2 separate regions of the Homo sapiens genome follow, and region 1 is linked to region 2. Evidence: fine-mapped expression QTL. A gene starts in region 2. The other region holds a variant in brackets. All regions are shown on one strand. Distances are from middle to middle. Region 1 holds the start of NUCB1-AS1 (NUCB1 antisense RNA 1). Region 2 holds the start of NUCB1 (nucleobindin 1).

Region 1 (11,532 bases), 23 kb after region 2:
CTATGAAAACAAATACAAAAATTAGCTGGGTGTGGTGGCGTGCATCTGTAGTCCCAGCTACTTGGGAGGCTGAGGTGGGAGGATCACTTGAGCCGAGGAGTTCAAGGCTTCAGTGAGCTACGATCACACCATTGCACTCCAGCCTGGGTGACAGAGTGAGACCCTGTCTCTAAAAAATAAAAAAATAAAAACCTTATTTAATCTTTTTAATCAGGCAGTCCCTACAGACCAGAATAGGTTCAGAGCAACTCCCTATACCTTTTTTTATTTTTCATTTTTTTTATTTTTAGAGATGGGGCTTCCCTTTGTCACCCAGGCTGGAGTGCAGTGGCGTGATCATGGCTCACTGCAACCCAGACCTCCTGGGCTCAAGTGATTCTTCCACCTCAACCCTTAGAGTAGCTGGGATCATAGGTGCACACCACCATGCCCAGCCAATTTTTAAATTTTTTTTTTCTTTTTGAGGCAGAGTCTTGCTCTGTTGCCCAGGCTGGAGTGCAATGGCATGATCTTGGCACACTGCAACCCCCGCCTCCCAGGTTCAAGCTATTCTCCTGCCTCAGCCTCCTGAGTAGCTGGGGTTACAGGCACTTGGCATTATGCCTGGCTAATTTTTGTATTTTTGTAGAGACGGGGTTTTACTATGCTGGCCAGGCTGGTCTTGAACTCCTGACTTCAGGTGATCCTCCTGCCTCGGCCTCCCAAAGTGCTGGGATTACAGGCGTGAGCCACCGCACCCGGCCCAATTTTTTACTTTTTTTTTTTTTTTTGTAGAGACGGGGTCTAGCCATCTTTTCTAAGCTGGTCTCGAACTTAATGTGCTCAAATGATCTTGCCTTAGCCTTCCAAAGTACTGGGATTACAGGCATGAGCCCCTAAATTTGGCCCCTACATTTTCTTTAATCTTAATCAATTTACATTTAAACAGCCCATGTGGCTAGCGGCTACTGTACTGGACAGCGCAGATCCAGAGTTTAGGCAGAGAAGAGACCCCCAGGCCTGAGCCCTGGGCCACACTAGCATGTGGAGGTCAGGAAGAGGATGGAGCCGTCAAAGGAGGTGGAGGGGCAGCCAGAGAGGACAGAATCATGTTCTGGAAGCCAAGGGCAGAAAGTCAAGTCAGATGCAGGTGGAAATTAACCACTGGATTTGCAAGATGAGGGTTCCTGGCCTCCTCCTCAGGAGGAAGGTTGTGCTTGTCTGAGGGAGCCGAGGAAGGAGGGCCGGTGGTGAGGACAGGAAGTGTGGCTGACCGAGCCTGAAGCCCTGCAGCTGTGGGGTCTACGTTGGTAGGAGAGGCTCCCCTCACAACTGGAGTCGGCACTGGCCTGGTTGTCTGGGAGGCAGAGGTCCCTGATAACCCTGGAGCTGACTCTGTGTCCAGAGCACTGAATGCCAGGGCCAGAGAATCCTGCATGACAGTGACCCAAGCATGTTTCCTCGAACCCTCCCTTTGATCTATTCCATTCTCAACCCCCTGGTCGCTAGGCAGTGGCCCTAGCAACGGGTCTAGTGGGGTACTAAAGCCTGGGGGCCACCGTTCCACCGCGGGAGACCCGTAGTTACCTGTCCTCTGATAACAGACCCCACATCAGCCCAAAATTTCTTCACCAGGGACCTTACACATCCCGTCCTCGGTCCCCTGAGATACCTTGCTATCCTCTTCCCTTCAGATATCAACAGTGATGGTGTCCTGGATGAGCAGGAGCTGGAGGCACTCTTCACCAAGGAGGTGAGCATCTTGGAAGCCTCGGGCACCTGGAGGGACGCCCAAATCAGCCACTTGTTTCCTCCTGCAGTCCCCTTAAATCCCCCTGGATGGGAGCTCAGTGAAAACTACAACTCCCATCAGCCCCTGGGGCAAAAACGGCTCCCAGGAGTGGTAGCGTGCCCAAAGGACTGCTGGGAGTTGAAGTTGTCGGGAATGAGCTCGCTGGGGACCTCTCAATGCTGTCTGCCTCTCGCTTGCTCCTGCAGCTGGAGAAAGTGTACGACCCAAAGAATGAGGAGGACGACATGCGGGAGATGGAGGAGGAGCGACTGCGCATGCGGGAGCATGTGATGAAGAATGTGAGGTGGGGGCCAGGCGGGGGAGAGGACGGGCCCCCAGCTCTGTCACTCACCCTTATCTGGCTCCCCAGGTGGACACCAACCAGGACCGCCTCGTGACCCTGGAGGAGTTCCTCGCATCCACTCAGAGGAAGGAGTTTGGGGACACCGGGGAGGGCTGGGAGGTGAGAACATGGGGGATACTCGGGGTCCTGAACCTCTCTCTCTTCTAGCCATGACCTTTCTTTCAGAATCTTAGGCCCCTTCTCTTTCTCTCTGGGTCCCCGTCCATTCTCCTGGGTCACTGCATCTCTATCTCTGGGTCTCTGTTTTCCCCTGTCTCTAGGACTCTTATTTATTTATTTATTTATTTATTTATTTATTTATTTATTCTGAGACGGAGTCTCACTCCATCGCCCAGGCTGCAGTGCAGTGGCACGATCTCGGCTCACTGCAGCCTCCACCTCCCAGGTTCAAGCAATTCTCCTGGCTCATCCTCTTGAGTAGCTGGGATTATAGGTGCGTGCCACCACACCCAGCTGATTTTTGTATTTTTAGTAGAGGCAGGATTTCACCATGTTGGCCAGGCTGGTCTCAAACTCCTGACCTCAGGTTATCCACCCACCTTGGCCTCCCAAAGTGCTGGGATTAGAGGTGTGATTTTTTTTTTTTTTTTTTTTTTTCTGAAACAGGGTCTTGCTCTGTCGCGTAGGCTGGAGCCCAGTGGTGGGATCTCGGCTCACTGCAACCTCCGCCTCTTGGATTCAAGCGATCCTCCCATCTCAGCCTCATGAGTAGCTGGGATTACAGGCGTGAGCCACCATGCCTGGCTAATTTTTGTATTTTTTGTAGAGATGGGGTTTTGCCATATCGGCCAGGCTGCTCTAGAACTGCTGGACTCAAGCGATCCACCTGACCTGGCCTCCCTAAGTGGTGGGATTACAGGCATGCACCACCGCACCACACCTAGCTAATTTTTGTATTTTTTGGTAGAGACAGGGTTTTGCATGTTGGCCAGGCTGCTCTGAAACTCCTGGACTCAAGCTATCCACCCTTCTCAGCCTCCCAAAGTGCTGGGATTACCCAGGCTGGAGTGCAGGGGTGTTATCATGGCCCACTGCAGCCTCAAACTCCTGTCCTCAAGTGATCCTCCTGCCTGAGCCTCCCTATTAGCTGGGACTACAGGCACATGCCAGCATGCCTAGCTAATCTAGCTCATTCTTTTATTTATTTATTAATATTTTTTGAGACAGGGTCTCCTGTCACCCAGGCTGGAGTGCAGTGGTGTAATCATAGTTCACTGCAGCCTTGAATTCCTGGGCTCAGGTGATCCTCCTTCCTTAGCCTCCTGAGTAACTGGGACTACAGGCACATACCACCATGCCCAGCTAATCTAGGTCTCTGTTTTATTTATTTATTTATTTGTTTGTTTATTTTTCAATACAGAGTTTTGCTCTTGTTGCCCAGGCTGTAGTGCAATGGTGCATTCTCAGCTCATTGCAACCTCCACCTCCCAGGTTCAAGCAATTCTCCTGCCTCAGCCTCCTGAGTAGCTGGGATTATATGCATGTACCACCATGCCCTGCTCATTTTGTATTTTTAGTAGAGACGGGGTTTCTCCATGTTGGTCAGGCTCATCTCAAACTACTGACCTCAGGTGAGCCACCCACCTCGGCCTCCGAAAGTGCTGGGATTACAGGTGTGAGCCATGGTGCCTGGCCTATTTCTATATATTTTTCAAGATGCCCAGCCAATTTTCTGTAGAGACAGGGTCTCGCTCCGTTGCCCAGGCTGACCTTGAACTCCTGGCGTCAAGTGATCCTTCCCACTTTCGCCTCCCAAAGTCCTGGGATTACAGGTGGGAGCCATGGTGCCCGGCCTTGTCTCTCGGTCTTTATCCCACTCCCACCTCCCACTTGGGCTTCTTTGCCCACCCACATGGCCCTGGCCTCCCAGCCTCCTCTACACCTCCCCCATTGGCACAACCCTCTCCAACATGGGTGGGCCGAGGTTGGACCTGTGCCCCTGATGGCCCCTGTGCCTGCCCTGCAGACAGTGGAGATGCACCCTGCCTACACCGAGGAAGAGCTGAGGCGCTTTGAAGAGGAGCTGGCTGCCCGGGAGGCAGAGCTGAATGCCAAGGCCCAGCGCCTCAGCCAGGAGACAGAGGCTCTAGGGCGGTCCCAGGGCCGCCTGGAGGCCCAGAAGAGAGAGCTGCAGCAGGTGACAGCGGGGGAAGCTGCTTCCATCCACTGAATCTCTGGCTGCCCGTGTCCGTGTCCCCATGGGTGTCCAGAAGCTGGGAAGGCCTGTGGCCACCATGTTAATCACTGGGGGAGCCTCAAGTATTCACCGCCATCTTGAGTAAGGGCAGACGTTTTCCCGTCTCTGACGGCTCTGTGGCTGCCATGTGAGATAAGGGCATTAAGGCTGTAAGTGAGGAGGGAAAGGCCCAGGAGGGGGAGAAAGGCAGACTCAGCCAGGGATGGGTGAGGGTTTCCCTGTCCCAAAGCAAGACCCAAGCTGTGACTGGAGGGAGAACTGGATCCTTGACTATTATTAAGCCCGACTGTCAATGAAAGAGAGAAACTGAGGCCCACGGAGAAGGGGTTGGCCGTGACCACTTAGCAGGCTGCTGTGAAGTCTCCGTTTGGGGACTGAGGCCTGAGCACTTGCAATGCCAGCATCACACCCTCTTGTCTGTGTGACCCCCCACCTCCCACAGGCTGTGCTGCACATGGAGCAGCGGAAGCAGCAGCAGCAGCAGCAGCAAGGCCACAAGGCCCCGGCTGCCCACCCTGAGGGGCAGCTCAAGTTCCACCCAGACACAGGTGCTGGCCCTAGTCCAGGGAGGAGGGGCTGCAGGGCTGGACCCCTGGGTCTGAGGTTGGAGGGGCTGGGCCTGGACTCCCAGATCTGAGGGAAGAGGGACTGGGGGCCCAGACTCCCAGATCTGAGGGAAGAGGGACTGGGGGTCCGGACTCCTGGGTCTGAGGGAGGAGGGGCTGGGGGCTGGGACCCCTGGGTGTGAGGGAGGAGGGGCTGGGACCCCTGGGTGTGAGTGAGGAGGGGCTGGGGGCTGGACCCCTGGGTGTGAGGGAGGAGGGGCTGGGGGCTGGACCCCTGGGTGTGAGGGAGGAGGGGCTGGGCCTCTGGGGTCCTGGGGGAGGAGGGGTTCGGATGTCCTGTGCCACCATTCCCTCCCTCCATTTCCAGACGATGTACCTGTCCCAGCTCCAGCCGGTGACCAGAAGGAGGTGGACACTTCAGAAAAGAAACTTCTCGAGCGGCTCCCTGAGGTTGAGGTGCCCCAGCATCTGTGATCCTCCGGGACCCCAGCCCTCAGGATTCCTGATGCTCCAAGGCGACTGATGGGCGCTGGATGAAGTGGCACAGTCAGCTTCCCTGGGGGC[T/C]GGTGTCATGTTGGGCTCCTGGGGCGGGGGCACGGCCTGGCATTTCACGCATTGCTGCCACCCCAGGTCCACCTGTCTCCACTTTCACAGCCTCCAAGTCTGTGGCTCTTCCCTTCTGTCCTCCGAGGGGCTTGCCTTCTCTCGTGTCCAGTGAGGTGCTCAGTGATCGGCTTAACTTAGAGAAGCCCGCCCCCTCCCCTTCTCCGTCTGTCCCAAGAGGGTCTGCTCTGAGCCTGCGTTCCTAGGTGGCTCGGCCTCAGCTGCCTGGGTTGTGGCCGCCCTAGCATCCTGTATGCCCACAGCTACTGGAATCCCCGCTGCTGCTCCGGGCCAAGCTTCTGGTTGATTAATGAGGGCATGGGGTGGTCCCTCAAGACCTTCCCCTACCTTTTGTGGAACCAGTGATGCCTCAAAGACAGTGTCCCCTCCACAGCTGGGTGCCAGGGGCAGGGGATCCTCAGTATAGCCGGTGAACCCTGATACCAGGAGCCTGGGCCTCCCTGAACCCCTGGCTTCCAGCCATCTCATCGCCAGCCTCCTCCTGGACCTCTTGGCCCCCAGCCCCTTCCCCACACAGCCCCAGAAGGGTCCCAGAGCTGACCCCACTCCAGGACCTAGGCCCAGCCCCTCAGCCTCATCTGGAGCCCCTGAAGACCAGTCCCACCCACCTTTCTGGCCTCATCTGACACTGCTCCGCATCCTGCTGTGTGTCCTGTTCCATGTTCCGGTTCCATCCAAATACACTTTCTGGAACAAATGCATGGCTCCATGCCTGTGTATCTGGACTGGTCCCTCCAAAACGCTATTGCCACGTCACCTGCCGGAGTCCTCATCTTTGAAGACTGGATTCAAGCATCACTTCTGAGAGGCTCAATCCTGGTATTTTTCCATCTGCCCCTGATGAGTCTGCAGCCTTCACTCAGGGTCCCTTCAGCCACAAGGACAGAAAACCCAAACCTGGGATTAAGCAATTTTTTTTTTTTTTTTTTTTGAGATGGAGTCTTACTCTGTCACCCAGGCTGGAGGGCAGTGGTGTAATCTCAGCTCACTGCAACCTCTGCCTTTTGGGATCAAGCGATTCTCCTGCCTCCGCCTCCCGAGTAGCTGGGATTACAGCTGCCTGCCACCACGCCCGGCCTTCTAATTTTTGCATTGTTTTAGTAGTGATGGGGGTTTCACCATATTGGCCAGGCTGGTCTTGAACTCCTGACATCATGATCTGCCCACCTTAGCCTCCCAAAGTGCTGGGATTACAGGAGTGAGCCACTGCACCTGGCCGGGATTAAGCAACTTTTAAAAGATGAATTTGGCCAGGTGCTGTGGCTCACGCCTGTAATCCCAACACTTCGAAAGGCCAAGATAGGGGGGATCACTTGAGGCCAGGAGTTCAAGACCAGCCTGGTCAACATGGCAAAACCCCATCTCTACTAAAAATACAAAGATGAGCCGGGTGTGGTGGTGGGCACTTGTAATCCCAGCTACTCGGGAGGCTGAGGCAAGAGAATTGCTTGATCCTGGGAGGCGGAGGTTGCAGCGAGCCAAGATTGCACCACTGCACTCCAACCGGAGTACCAGAGCAAGATTCCATCTCAAAAAAAAAAAAAAGAATGTACCAGGTATGGTGGCTCCACCTGTAGTCCCAGCACTTTAGAAGGCAGAGGCGGATAGATCACGAGGTCAGGAGATGGAGACCATCCCGGCTAACACGGTGAAACCCTTTCTCTACTAAAAATACTAAAAAAATTAGCTGGGCGTGGTGGCAGGCACCTGTAGTCCCAGCTACTCAGGAGGCTGAGGCAGGAGAATTGCTTGAACCCAGGAGGCAGAGGTTGCAGTGAGCCGAGATCATGCCACTGCACTCCAGCCTGGGTGACAGAGCGAGACTCTGTCTGAAAAAAAGAAGGCTGAGGCAAGAGGATCACTTGAGCTTAGGAGTTTGAGACCAGCCTGGGCAACATAGCGAGACCCCGTCTCAGAAAAAGAAAAAAAATTAGCTGGGCATGGTAGTGTGTGCCTGTAGTCTCAGCTGCTTAGGAGGCTGGTGTGGGAGGATCCCTTGAGCCCTGGAGTTTGAGGCTGCAGTGAGCCATGATCTATCACTCCACTGCACTCCAGGCTGGGTGACAGAATGAGGCCCTGTCTCTAATAGAAAAAAGAATAAATAAAAATGAATTATGATAAAAACCAAGATGTCCCAAGGCAGGATGACTTCAGGGAACCAGGTTCTCGCATCCCCTAGCTGTGCCAAGGATAGGTTTGGGGGCTGGACCCCCCCTCATGGTCCCAAGGTAGCTGCAGCTGCTCCAGATGTCACCAACAGCCAGTGAAGGAAGAGGCCGCATTCTGTTCTGGGCATTGTTAAGTGGGAGAAAATCTGTCCCCAGAGTTCCCTCTCCTTTCAGCCCTCTCCTCATGTTCCCTTATATCCCACTGGCTGTGAGGCACAGGTCAGTGACAGCTGCAGACAGATCCACCAAGCTGGCATCCACCAGTGGTGATTTCATCCTCACCTGGGATGGGGATGCTTTCCTTGGACCAAGTTGGGGTCTGGTAAAAAGCAAGCGGGGAATATTTGTTTTTGTTTTGTTTTGTTTTTGGAGACAGAGTCTTGCTCTGTCTCCCAGGCTGGAGTACGATGACGCGATCTCGGTTTACTGCAACCTCTGCCTCCTGGGTTCAAGCGATTCTCCTGCCTCAGTCTCCTGAGTAGCTGGGATTACAGGTGCCCAGCACACACCCGGCTAATTTTTCTGTATTTTTAGTAGAGATGGGGCTTTCACCATGTTGGTCAGGCTGGTCTTGAGAACTCCTGACCTCAGGTGATCCCCCCGCCTCGGCCTCCCACAGTGTTGGGATTACAGGCCTGAGCCACCACGCCCGGCCAGGAGTATTTGTTTAAATGAAATTCTGGCCAGGCACAGTGGTTCATGCCTATAAGCTCAGCACTTTGGAGGCCAGGGATGGGCAGGGTGGGGGGTTTCAGGAGAGGATGACAGGAGGATGACTCAAGCTCAGAGCTCAAGACCAGCCTGAGCAACATAGCAAGACCTCATCTCTAAAAAAAAAAAAAAAAAAAAAAAAAAAATTAGCCGGGTGTTGTGGCATGCACCTGTGGTCCCAGCTACTCAGGAGGCTTAAGGACAGAAGAATCGCTTGGCCACAGAAGGTTAAGGCTACAGTGAGCCATGACCACGCCACTGCACTCCAGCCTGGGAGACAGGGCAAGACCCTTTCTCGAGAAAAATAAATAGGCCGGGCACAGTGGCTGATGCCTATAATCCCAACGCTTCAGGAGGCCAAGGAGGAAGGATCCTTTGAGCCCAGGAGTTTGAGGCCAACCTGGGCAATATAGGGAGACCCCATCTCTATGTAAAAAAATAAATAAATAGGGCCAGGCGCAGTCACTCACAACTATAATCCCAGCACTTTGGGAGGCTGATGTGGGCGGATCACTTGAGGGCAGGAATTCAAGCCCAGCCTGGGCAACGTGAAACCCCGTCTCTACAAAAAAATACCAAAATTAGCCGGGCGTGGTGGTGTACACCTGTAATCCCAGCTACTCAGGGAGGCTGAGGCACAAGAATCACTTGAACCTGGGAGGCAGAGGTTGCAGTGAGCCAAGATCACACTACTGTACTCCAGCCTGGGTGACAGAGCAAGACTCCATCTCAAGAAAAAAAAAAAAATTAGCTGGGTGTGGTGGCACATGCCTGTAGTCCCAGCTACTTGGGAGGCTGAGGTGAAAGGATCGCTTGGGCCTGGGAAGCGGTGATTGCAACGCTGCACATCAGCCTGGGTGACCAAGCGGGACTCTGTCTCAGAACAAAACAAAACAAAAATACATATTCCCAGATCCTGGAATGTCCTGGGAAGCTATATGTGTGTCATGCCCTCCCAGCTGCACCTGAACAATGAGCATAGCAAACATCAGCTGCAGCCTCTCTTTGCCTCTCTCAGAAAATGAGGGGAGTTGAGCTTCAGTGACCCAATCTGGAAAACGGGCCTAAATGGTGTTCTTTGAAAGGTTCATATAGGCAAAGCGGTCCCCAAATGCCGAAGGAGCCAAGAAACCAAAGAATGAGGCCGACCCATCTAGTTTGTCAATACAGGGTGGTTTATTAGGGGGAAACTTAGAGTGTGGTCTTCGCCAGGCATGGTGGCTTATGCCTGGAATCCCAGCACTTTGGGAGGCCGAGGCAGGTGGCTCACTTGGGGTCAGGAGTTCGAGACCAGCCTGACTGACATGGTGAAACTTGTCTCCACTAAAAATACAAAAATTAGCCAGGTGTGGTGGTGGGCGCCTGTAATCCCAGCTACTGGAGAGGTTGAGGCAGGAGAATCACTTGAACCCGGGAGGTGGAGACTGCAGTGAGCCGAGCTCACGCCACTGCACTCCAGCCTGGGCTACAAAGCAAGACCCTGTCTGGAAAAAAAAAAAAAAGAAGTGTGGTCTTGGGCAGCAGCAAGACAGATAGATCACACCCTGCAACCCCCAGACACAGGGCTTCTATCTCGAGGAAAGCATATCTGTGCTCTGGAAGAAACGCGTAGGTGGCTATGGGCGATACATCTTGTGATGGATGTGACAACATCAAGGCTTGTTCTGGAGGAAAGGCTGGTAAGTACGTGTTTCTACATAAAGAGTAACACATCCGTTAGACATGTTGGAGGCATTCCCAGTTTCGGGTTAGTCAGAAGTCACACGGCAGGCTGGGTGCAGTGGCTCATGCCTATAATGCCAGCATTTTGGGAGGCTGAGGCAGGAAGACCGTTCGAGCCCAAGAGTTTGAAACCAGCCTGAGCAACATAGTGAAACCCCGTCTCTTTTTTTTTTTTTTTGAGACAGAGTCTCACTCTTGTTGCCGGTGGCTCGATCTCGGCTCACTGCAACCTCCGCCTCCCGGGTTCAAGTGATTCTCCTGCCTCAGCCTCCTGAGTAACTGGGATTACAGGCGCCCACCACGCCCAGCTAATTTTTGTATTTTTAGTAGAGACAGGGTTTCGCCATGTTGGCCAGGCCGGTCTCAAACTCCTGTCCTCAGGTGATCTGCCCTCCTCTGCCTCCCAAAGTGCTGGGATTATAGGCATGAGCCACCACGCCCAGCCAACCCTGTTTCTTTCTTTTTCTTTTTTTTTTTTTTTTGATACGGAGTCTTGCTGTGTCCCCCAGGCTGGAGTGCAATGGCACAGTCTCGGCTCACTGCAACCTCCACCTCCCGGGTTCAAGCAATTCTCCTGCCTCAGCCTCCCAAGTAGCTGAGATTACAAACCCCGTCTCTTAAAAAAGGAAAAAAATCACATGGCAGAGTAGCATTTTAAAATAAAGTCACGAGGCTGGGCGCGGTGGCTCACGCCTGTAATCTCAGCACTTTGGGATGCTGAGGCAGGCGAATCACCCGAGGTCAGGAGTCTGAGACCAGCCTGACCTACGTTGAGAAACCCCGTCTCTACTGAAAATACAAAATTACCCGGGCCTGGTGGCGCATGCCTGTAATCCCAGCTGCTCAGGAGGCTGAGGCAGGAGAATCGCTTGAACCCAGGAGGTGGAGGTTGCGGTGAGCCGAGATCACGCCATTGCACTCCAGCCTGGACAACAAAAGCAAAACTCCGTCTTAAAAAATAAATAAATAAATAACATTAAACTACGTCACTCAGCCTGTGAACAATGGCTCACGCTTATAACCCAGCAATTTGGGAGGCCGCAGCAGGTGGATCACTTGAGGTCACGAGTTCGAGACCAGCCCGGCCAACATGGTAAAACCGCATTTCTACTAAAAATACAAAATTAGCTGGGTGTGGTGATGGGCGCCTGTAATCCCAGCTACTCATGAGGCAGGAGAATCGCTTGAACCCAGGAGGCGGAAGTTGCAGTGAGCTGAAATTGTGTCACTGCACTCCAGCCTGGGTGACAGAGCAAGACTCCGTCCAAAAAAAAAAAAAAAAAAAAAGGGACCATGTTCTAGTGTAGGGGTAAGTGGATTGTTTTGGCCCCAACCCCAAGAGGATCAAGGGAGACCACTGCAGCTGCCCGAGAAATTCTTGCCCTCTGACAAGAAACACCCTATCCAGT
Region 2 (10,061 bases):
AAGCTGCTGCCTAAGAAAGGGGAAGATTTGCTGCATGAACCAGGAGATCCCAGGTTTCACCCCAATGTCCCCTAAATTACCAGGTCGTTGGTGGGCTTGCCAACCCTTGCGTCGGATTCTCGGAGACTGTTTAAAAGGTGGGGGAGAGACGGAACCATTCTCCACGGAGACTTCCTCCAATTCTGCATCGGAATTGTCTGGGAGCCAGGATAAGAAAGGGGACTGGAGACCGAGATTCCTGAACACTGAGGAAGGAAGGAGGGGAGAGTTGGATTTCTGGATGCTGCAGGAGGAGGCGGCTCAGGACCTGAACTCCTTGGTGTGAGGAAGGAGTGGGTGCGGTCCTGAGCTCCTGAGTATTTTGGACAGATGGATTGAGGCACCAGACTCCTGGGTTTTAGTGGGGACGGAGTTCTGGGGTCTAGGAGGTCGGTGGACTCGCAAATACCTGCTTCTGTCCGCGGTGTCGGGAGGCCGCGCTCGCCCCTGCCGTCTCCACCACAGCTCACGGTGCCCAGGGCACTGTGGATGCCAGAGGGCAGATGTGCCTCTGACACTTTCTTCCGGAGGAAAGGGTTCCCAAGGCCTGGGAGAAGGTTCAGCGAGCCCATGAAAACGATCTACAAATTCCGGTCCTCAACCAAAATCCACCCCGTCACTGGGCTCCCAAATATCACCCCCGCCAGGCGCCGTGGCTCACGCCTGTAATCCCAGCACTTTGGGAGGCCGAGGCAGGCGGATCACCTGAGGTCGGGAGTTCGAGACCAGCCTGACCAACATGGAGAAACACCGTCTCTACTAAAAACACAAAATTAGCCGGGCTTGGTGGCGCATGCCTGTAATCACAGCTACTCGGGAGGCTGAGGCAGGAGAATCGCTTGAACCCGGGAGACGGAGGTTGCGGTGAGCCGATATCCTGCCATTGTACTCCAGCTTTGGCAACAAGAGCTAAACTCCGTCTCAAAAAAGAAAAAAAAATCACCCTGTTTCGCGGACCGCCCAAACCTTGAGACCCAGGTCCCAAACTGCATCCTAAGCCTCAAACAAGCACAGCCCTGCCGCTGGATTGTTGCGGGCTCCGCACGTAAAGAATCTCGCGCCAGGCTCTCGTAATGAGACCGCGCCCCGCCCCGGACCCCTAGACCCCGTCTCCGCAATCCCGGGTTTGGGGTGGGGGTCCCGGCTTTCCCAGGCTCCACCACCGAGCTCTGCCAAGCCCAATCATCACATTCTCTTGCCCCTTTCCCCTGCTAGTTGTACCATGCCCCGCCCCTGCGCTCTGTAGCCCTGCCCCGAACCCCTCCCTCACAGGTCCTGCCGCGGGGGGCCCCCACAAGCCTCTCCCCTGGGCGCCCACAGGCCCTGTTCTAAAGCTCTCCTGGGCCAAGGCCCGCCCCCATCCACTGCCAAGTCCCCACCCTAAGGCTCCACCCCTTCATCCACTAGGCCCCGCCCACAGACTCCCACAGGCCCCTCCCCTCCAGGCGAACGCCCCCAGGGGTCTTTGGTCACCTCTGTCACCTAAAAGGCGCTCCTCCCGCAGACAAGAGCGCCAAAGCCACGGGGAAGCGTCAGGATTGGCCTGAACCATGAGGAGCTCCTGGCGCTTCTGTCGCTGCTTCTTTTCAAACAGCCGCCGCTGGGGAGATGGGAGAGGTGGGTGTCCGGGACAGGAACCAGATGGGAAGACAGAAGTGAGGTGGGGCCTGGGGCAAGGGCTCGCATCGGCGCGAGAGTTCGTGAACCCCTTCCTCCACTGGGGCCCACACGTCCAGGCCCTCAGTTCTTCAGCAGCTCCTCCCTTATTCCACCGTTGGACTCAGATCCAAGAGTCCTGACACCCTGTCCTCTCATCCCCCAGGACCCAGGAGTCCTGCCTTCTAGAAGCCTTGTTCCTTAGAAATTCATCACAAGGGTTTGTTTGCTTCTTTAGAACCCCCAATTCCTATTTTCTTTTCTTTTTCCTTTCTTACTTTTTTTTTTTCTTTTTGAGACAGAGTCTGGCTCTATCGCCCAGGCTGGAGTGCAGTACCACGATCTCCGCTCACTGCAGCCTCCGCCTCCCGGATTCAAACGATTCTCCTGCCTCAGCCTCCCGAGTAGCTGGGATTACAGGCGCCTGCCACCACACCTGGCTAATTTTTTGTGTGTTAGTAGAGACGGGGTTTCGCCGTGTTGGCCAGGCTTGTCTTGAACTCCTGACCTCAAGTGATCCGCCCACCTCAGCATCCCAAAGTGCTGTGATTACAGCCGTGAGCTGCCCTGCCCGGCCCCAAATTCCTATTTTCTCATTTCTCAGTGGGAAAACTCAAGGATGAGAGACAGCCAACACGGGCTGGGAGTCCTAGAGCAAGACCTGGTGGAGAGGCCCCTGGGGAGGCACAGAAGGCGGAAGAGTTGGAGTGGTGAGATTCCTGGGCACAATACCTGCTGTTCCAGCTTCTGCAGCCTCATAGCAGCGAGCTCATGCCCCAGGATGCTGAGAGAGACACAGGCCCATGGTGACAGTGCACAGGGAACCTCGGTTGCCCAAGAGAGTCCCTCCTTCCCCCATCCTGCCCCTATCTCAGCTTGGGTTCTGGGCACCTGTGAGGTCACAGGAGGTGCAGAACCTGAGCCTGCTCCACCAGTTATAGGGCCCTTTCTCCTGGCACTGGCCCACAGAAGCCGGGACCCAGAGATCCCAGGTCCCTCCTGTCTCAGGATTCAGGAGTCTGGGGCCCCCAACCCCTTCTCTTTCAGACCCAGAAGTCTGCACCCTAGCCCCATCCCTTCAGGACACAGGAGTCCAGGTCCCCAGCCCCTTCCTGCAAGGCCGATGGTGCTGAACCTGCAAACATGGTTATGAAGCCAGAGCCGAGTGCACGGGGTCCCCAGCCCTTTCCACCTCCACCCCTACCCATCTGTTTCCCTACTCACTCTCTCATCAATGTGTCATTATCCTGAGACATTCTGCAGAAGCAAGAATGAGGAGTCAGGATCAGAACCAACATCCCAATGGATCCTGCCCACCAGCACCTAATCTTTAGCCTTATTTATTTATTTATTTATTTATTTATTTATGTATTTAGAGACAGCTGAGCCTCGCTCTGTCGCCCAGGCTGCAGTGCAGTGGCGCCATCTCGGCCACTGCAACCTCCACCTCCTGGGTTCAAGCGATTCTCCTGCCTCAGCCTCCCGAGTAGCTGGGACTACAGGCGTCCGCTATTCTGCCTAATTTTTTTGTATTTTAGTAGATACCGGTTTTCACTATGTTGGCCAGGCTGGTGCCGGACTCCTGACCTCAGGTGATCTGCCCGCCTTGGCCTTCCAAAGTGCTAGGATTACAGGCATGAGCCACAGTGCCCGGCCTGATCCTTACCTTTAAATTTGCTTCCGGACCCAGGCAGCCCGAATCCCAGCACCCACTCCTGTCGGGATCTAGTAGCCTGTTTCCAGCTTCCCACGGGGGTCCGCAAGTCCGCTTCTCTCTCCCCCAAATATCTAATTCTCCAGCACCCAGGCATCAGAACTCAGGACTGTGCACTTCAAACACCCAGCCCCCAGCGGCCTAGAACTCCACTGCCCACCTGCCTGGGATCCGGGAGACTTGTTCTCCTCACCAGGTGCCTGGAGAGGCTGCTCACATTGATGCCTCGGTACCTTGCCTCTCTGGCCAATCTCTAAACATACCTGATCCTCTCTTTGGAAGCTGGGGACCTAATCTCGGGATATCTGCGAAATAGGGAGGAGAAGAAAGACGGCTCAGAGGGAGGGAGGATTCCCTCTGGGACCTGAACTGGTCCACTCCCTTCTGACCCTCCACTCTCCACTTCCAACAAAGTAACGAACTCGGTCACTGATGCAGCCAGGCAACCCTGCTCCGGGGGTTCTGAACACGAATGCCGTGTGGGGGTTCCTTAAAGAGACCAGAGACCGGCCCGGCGCGGTGGCTCACGCCTGTAATCCCAGCACTTTGGGAGGCCGAGGCGGGCGGATCACGGGGTCAGGAGATCTAGACCATCCTGGCTAACATGGTGAATCCCCGTCTCTACTAAAAAAAAATATATATATATACACAAAAAAATTAGCCGGGCGTTGTGGCGGGCGGGCGCCTGTAGTCCCAGCTACTCGGGAGGCTGAGGCAGGAGAATGGCGTGAACCCGGGAGGCGGAGCTCGCAGTGAGCTGAGATCGCGCCACTGCACTCCAGCCTGTGTGACAGAGGTAGACACCGTCTCAAAAAAAAAAAAAAAAAGAGAGAGAGAGAGCGGGAGACCAGAGACCTCGCGGCCTCACTGTACACATCTCGCTTACAAGAAACTTAAAAGAGGCGGGGCGCAGTGGCTCACGCCTGTAATCCCAGCACTTTGGGAGGCGGAGACGGGGAGGCAAGATTGCTTGAGTCCAGGAGATCCAGATCCAGACCAGCAACACAGAGATTTTTTTTTTTTTTTGAGACGTAGTCTCACTCTGTCGCCCAGGCTGGAGTGCAGTGGCGCGATCTCGGCTCACTGCAACCTCCGCCTCCCGGGTTTAAGAGATTGTCCTGCCTCAGCTTCCTGAGTAGCTGGGATTACAGGCATGCGCAACCACGCCTGGCTAATTTGTATTTTTAGTGGAGGCGAGGTTTCTCCATGTTGGCCAGGCTGGTCTCAAACCCTTGACCTCAGGTGATCTGCCTGCCTCAGCCTCCCAAAGTGCTGGGATTACAGGAGTGAACCCCCAAGCCCGGCTTGACATCCGTCTCTTTAAAAAACAACAACAACAAAGTGTGAGAAGTGTGAAAGACAGAACGTTAAAAAAAAAAAAAGGCTAAAAAAGAATTAAAGATTTAAATATTTGTATTAAAAATTTAAAAAATATACATTAGCCAGGCATGGTAGTGTGGCCTGTGGTCCCATCTACTTGGGAGGCTGACGCGGGAGGATTGCTTGGGCCTGGGAGGTAGAGGCTGCAGTGAGAAGTGATTGCGCCACTGCACTCCAACCTGGGTGACAGAGCAAACCCTGTCTCGAATAATAAGAAGAAGAAGAAAGAAACTCATAAGAAAGGCTATGCAATTGCTACCGCGCTATAACTTCCAGGCACTTCGTGGGGCGAAAATAAATGGGAAAACTACAGCTCCCATGAGGCGAAGGGGCCACGATGCCCGCGGAAGTTATTTTTCCCCCGGCCGGCAGGGAGTTGTAGTTATCTTTGAAAGCCTTCTCTCTCTTTTGGCATAGGCGGGAAATGTGGCGTCAAGAGGCTGGGATTCCGAGAAAGAAGCGAGGCTTTCACGAAAATGCGAGCGGCTTCGGCAAGGGGCGGGGCCGCTGGACGTGGATGAAAGCTACAGAGCCAGCGTGGACCAATCAGACCTCTTTGGGGCGGGGCCTCTGTGGATAAGTGGGCGTGGTCTAGGGGGGAAGTCACCAAGAACGCACCGGAGGTCCTTGCCCGCCCTGGAAAACGCCCTCTGCGGTGAAGGAGAGGTGAGAGGCCAGGGTTCCCATACTCTTGGGTCCTAGGGAGGATGGGGGCCAGAGGGCTGGAAAACTGGGTCCCGGAGGAGGATGCACTGGGTGCCAGTACTTTAGGTCCTGGGAAAAGAGGAGGCTGGGACCCTGGACTCTTGGGTCTGGGGGAGGAGGCGGCCGAGATCCCGGATTCCTGAGTGTGAGAGAGGAGCGTGTTGGGAGCCAGGACCCCTGGGTCTGAGGGCCCAGACTCCTGTGTCGGAGGAAGGGAAGGCCGGAGGCCTGGAATCCTGGGGCCTGGGTAACAAAATGCTTGTGTCTTGATTCTTGGAAGTGGGGGCGGCGCTGGGGGCCCGAACTCCTGGTTCCAGGGGAGGAAGAGGCTTGGGACAGACATTATGCATTATCCAGCCCTCCATCCCCCACAGACCACACTGCCATGCCTCCCTCTGGGCCCCGAGGAACCCTCCTTCTGTTGCCGCTGCTGCTGCTGCTCCTGCTTCGCGCCGTGCTGGCTGTCCCCCTGGAGCGAGGGGCGCCCAACAAGGAGGAGACCCCTGCGACTGAGAGTCCCGTGAGTGGCCCTGCCCTGCTATCCAGCCAGGTGTTTGCAGTGGTACTACAGCTCCTGCAGACCCCGGTGCCCGTAGGGCGGATGCTCCAGTGACTTCCTGGCCCTACAGTTGTAGCTTGTTTTTTGCCCACCATTCCTCCCAGCAGCAGGGGTTTGACTTGGTGAAAAACTGGAGGTCCCTGACTCTGAGGTGTGGAAAATCTGCATCACGCCCCAACTAAACGTCTGTTTTTTTAAGATTCTCTCCACCCAAGAAGGAATTTGAAAACAAACAAACAAAACTACATTTCCCAGTAGCACCATGTTGCTAGTTCCCAGTAGCAGTTGATGTTGGCTAGCTGGGGTATTCTGACTTCATGGTGCTCTTGGGAGTTGTAGTTTAAATTACAGAAGGGCGGGTGAACTGCTTGTTTATTAATTCCTACATGTGTTTATCAAACCCAATAAAAGCTTTGGTCTTAAGGGATTTGGAACTTTGGAGATCCTGAAGGTCAGTGAGTGTCTTGTGGTCCGAATCTTCCTATAGCTCCCCATAAGGATAGGCTGGTCAGGCCAGGCGCAGTGGCTCATGCCTGTAATCCTAGCACTTTGGGAGGCCGAGACAGGCGGATCACTTGAGGTCAGGAGTTCAAGACCAGCCTGGCCAACATGGCAAAACCCCATCTCTACCAAAAATGCAGAAATTAGCTGGGCGTGGTGGCTCACGCCTATAATCCCAGCTACTCTGGGAGGCTGAGGCACGAATTCTCGTGCTGGAACCAAGAGAGGTGGAGGTTGCAGTGAGCCAAGGTCACGCCATTGCACTCCAGCCTGGGCAACAGAGCTGAGACTCTGTTTTCTGAGACTGTCTCAAAAAACAAAGAATGGGCTAGTCATTACCCCCTGGAACGGATCATTGCATGTTCCTGGTCCCCACGCTGCAAGTTAGGCCTCTATTCTGTGAAATCCTTGCAGACCCAGGAAGGCTTTGTTGAGTCCCATTTCTTTTCTTCCATTCCACATGTTTCCTGAGCACCTTCTATGAGCCGGGCATAGTGTTGCCTATGTGTTGCATAGTTGTTAGGGCCCAGCCATGTGCATGCCCCATGCCCATGGACTATCCCTGCTCACTGGGAGATGGAAGACAAAGGGCAGGGCTCTATGAGAGTGAACACCAGGGGTGACAGTCAGGGAGGAAGGGAGGCGTGAGTTGAGTTCTTTCTTTCTTTCTCGCTCTGTCACCAGGCTGGAGTGCAGTGGTGCAATCTTGGCTCACTGCAACCTCTGCCTCCCAGGTTCAGGTGATTCTCCTGCCTCAGCCTCCCGAGTAGCTGGGACTACAGGCGCACACCACCACGCCCATCTAATTTTTGTATTTTTAGTAGAGACGGAGTTTCACCATGTTGGCCAGGATGGTCTCGATCTCTTGACCTCTTGATCTGCCTGCCTCGGCCTCCCAAAGTGGTGGGATTACAGGCATGAGCCACCTCATTTTTTCTTTTCCTTTTTCTTTTTTTTTTTTTTTTTTATTTTTGCTGTGTCACCCAAGCTGGAGTGCAGTGGTGCAATCACTGCAATCTCCATCTCCCAGACTCAAGCGATCCTCCTGCCTCAGCCTCTGGAGTAGCTGGGACTGCAGGCATGTGCCACCATGCCTAGCTAATTTTTTTTGTATTTTTGATAGAGACAGGGTGTCATTATACTGCCCAGGCTAGTCTCGAACTCCTGAGTTCAAGTGATTTGCCCGCCTCGGCCTCCCAAAGTGCTGGGATAATAGGTGTGAGCCACTGAGTTCTGAACTGGAGAGATATGTTAAGTCAAGAGCAAGGAAGAGAGGAAGTGAGGGGAAGAGCATTCCAGGCAGAGGGAACAGCATGAGCAAAGGCCACTTGGTAGGAGAAAGCAGAGCAAGTTGAGGACGTCAAGGAGGCTGCTGTGGCTGGAGCAGGGAGAGTGAGAGGGAGGGGAGAGGGGGATTATGTGGATCATGTGGGATCTTGTGAGACTAGGTAAAGAGGTAAAGAATGTATATATATATATATATGTTTAATAGACAGGGTCTTGTGCTGGTGCCCAGGCTGAAGCGCAGTGGCAGGATCATACCTCACTGCAGCCTTGAACTCCTGGGCTCAAGTGATCCTCCTACCTCAGCCTCCCAAAGCACTGGGATTACAGGCATGAGCTACCATGCCTGGCCTTCTCTCTTTTGTAATTTTATTTATTTATTTTTTCCAACTTATCTTATTTGCTTTTCACCACAACTCTGGGAGGCAGAGGATATATTGCCTATTTTATAAATAGTAAGAGCATAGAAGGCCCAGGGAGAGTAAAGTCCCACCCAGCTACGCATGACGGGGGTGGGACTAGGAGGCCTGGGACTTTTGTCTGTGTTGTTCACAGTGCCTGGCATATGATAGGGGCCTGGTGAATGTTTGTTGAATGAATGAATGCATGCATGGGCGGGTGGGTAGATGGATGGGCAGTTGGATGGATGGGCGGGTGGATGGATGGGTGGGTGGATGAGTGGATGGATGGATGGATGGGTGGTTGGATGGATGGGCGGGTGGATGGATGGGCGGGTGGATGGATGGGTGGGTGGATGAGTGGATGGATGGATGGGTGGGTGGATGGATCGATGGGTGGGTGGATGGATGGATGAGTGGATGGATGGGCGGGTGGATGGATGGGTGGGTGGATGAGTGGATGGATGGATGGACGGGTGGTTGGATGGATGGGCGGGTGGATGGATGGGTGGGTGGATGAGTGGATGGATGGATGGGTGGGTGGATGGATGGATGGGTGGGTGGATGGATGGATGAGTGGATGGATGGGCGGGTGGATGGATGGGTGGGTGGATGAGTGGATGGATGGATGGATAGATGGATGGATGGATGGATAGGTGGGTGGATGGATGGGCAGGTGGATGAGTGGATGGATGGATGGATGAGTGGATGGATGGATGGATGGATGGATGGGTGGGTGGATGGATGGATGGGTGGATGGATGGATGGATGGGTGGGTGGGTGGATGGATGGATGAGTGGATGGATGGGTGGATGGATGGATGGATGATGGGTGGATAGATGGGTGGGTAGGATGTATGTATGGATGGGTGGGTGGGATGTATGGATGGATGGGTGGGTGGATGCATGGATGAATGGGTGGATGCATGGATGGATGGATGGTTGGATGGATGGATAAAAGTATGATTCACAGCTTCCCAACAAGTCATGTCCACTCTGAGCACCCACTCTGGGCAGTATTGGGCTGGGTGTTCACTGATGTGATTTTCATTTCATCTTTGCTGCATATGTGGGAAAAGGTAAAAACTGAGTCCCTTGTCAGCTGCCCCAGGGAGCAGGCCATAGCAGTAACAGGAGTGAGGGTGGGGATGGGGATGGGAGCAGGGGCTGCTATGTCTGTCCTTGTTGCCTCAGGACACAGGCCTGTACTACCACCGGTACCTCCAGGAGGTCATCGATGTACTGGAGACGGATGGGCATTTCCGAGAGAAGCTGCAGGCTGCCAATGCGGAGGACATCAAGGTGCGGCTGGGGGAGTGGGGGCTGTGGGAGGGGTACGTGCTGGGAGGGCAGAGTTCAGGGGAGGACTGGTTTCTTTTTTTTTTTTTTTGAGACGGAGTCTTGCTCTGTCACCCAGGCTGGAGTGCGATGGTGCGATCTCAGCTCACTGCACCTCCACCCCGCAGGTTCAAGCAGTTCTCCTGCCTCAACCTCCCAAGTAGCTGGGATTACAGGCGTACACCACCATGCCTGACTAATTTTTGTATTTTTAGTAGAGACGGGGTTTCACCATGTTGGCCAGGCTGGTCTCGAACTCCTGACCTCGTGATCCTCCCATCTCGGCTTCCCAAAGTGTTGGGATTACAGGCATGAGCCACCATGCCTGACCATACTGGTTTCTTCAAAGGGGCCACATGGCTCCAGCTGTGCCTGTATTTGAAAATCACCAAAGTAAGACTCAGGGAGAAGTTGCTTCTTGGGGTCACAAGCTGGGAAGAGCTTTGGGGAACACAGAATACGTGTTTAGTGCAGAGTCCCGTGGGCAG

Evidence for each region. PIP is the estimated chance that this variant, and not a neighbour inherited with it, causes the effect.
Region 1: its variant is fine-mapped to the expression of NUCB1 in whole blood (TOPMed, PIP above 0.99).

The regions. Positions count from the first base shown.
Region 1 is chr19:48,917,053-48,928,584 of GRCh38, forward strand. NUCB1 (nucleobindin 1) reads left to right here. Exons shown (of 13, transcript NM_006184.6): 8 at 1,674-1,732; 9 at 1,978-2,070; 10 at 2,142-2,234; 11 at 4,102-4,272; 12 at 4,775-4,880; 13 at 5,266-6,320. The coding sequence ends at 5,372. It overlaps NUCB1-AS1 (NUCB1 antisense RNA 1), which reads right to left and starts at 1,839. Exons shown (of 2, transcript NR_046633.1): 1 at 1,652-1,839. RefSeq lists enhancers at 2,038-2,537, 5,684-6,183 and a silencer at 9,860-10,154. The variant T/C (reference allele first, on the strand shown) is at 5,463.
Region 2 is chr19:48,894,918-48,904,978 of GRCh38, forward strand. NUCB1 (nucleobindin 1) reads left to right here and starts at 5,395. Exons shown (of 13, transcript NM_006184.6): 1 at 5,395-5,455; 2 at 5,869-6,014; 3 at 9,430-9,537. The coding sequence starts at 5,880. It overlaps TULP2 (TUB like protein 2), which reads right to left and starts at 3,827. Exons shown (of 13, transcript NM_003323.3): 1 at 3,673-3,827; 2 at 2,920-2,952; 3 at 2,428-2,479; 4 at 1,513-1,639; 5 at 449-586; 6 at 81-245. The coding sequence starts at 2,951. RefSeq lists enhancers at 1-774, 3,222-4,037, a silencer at 1,201-1,340 and a cis regulatory region at 3,572-4,571.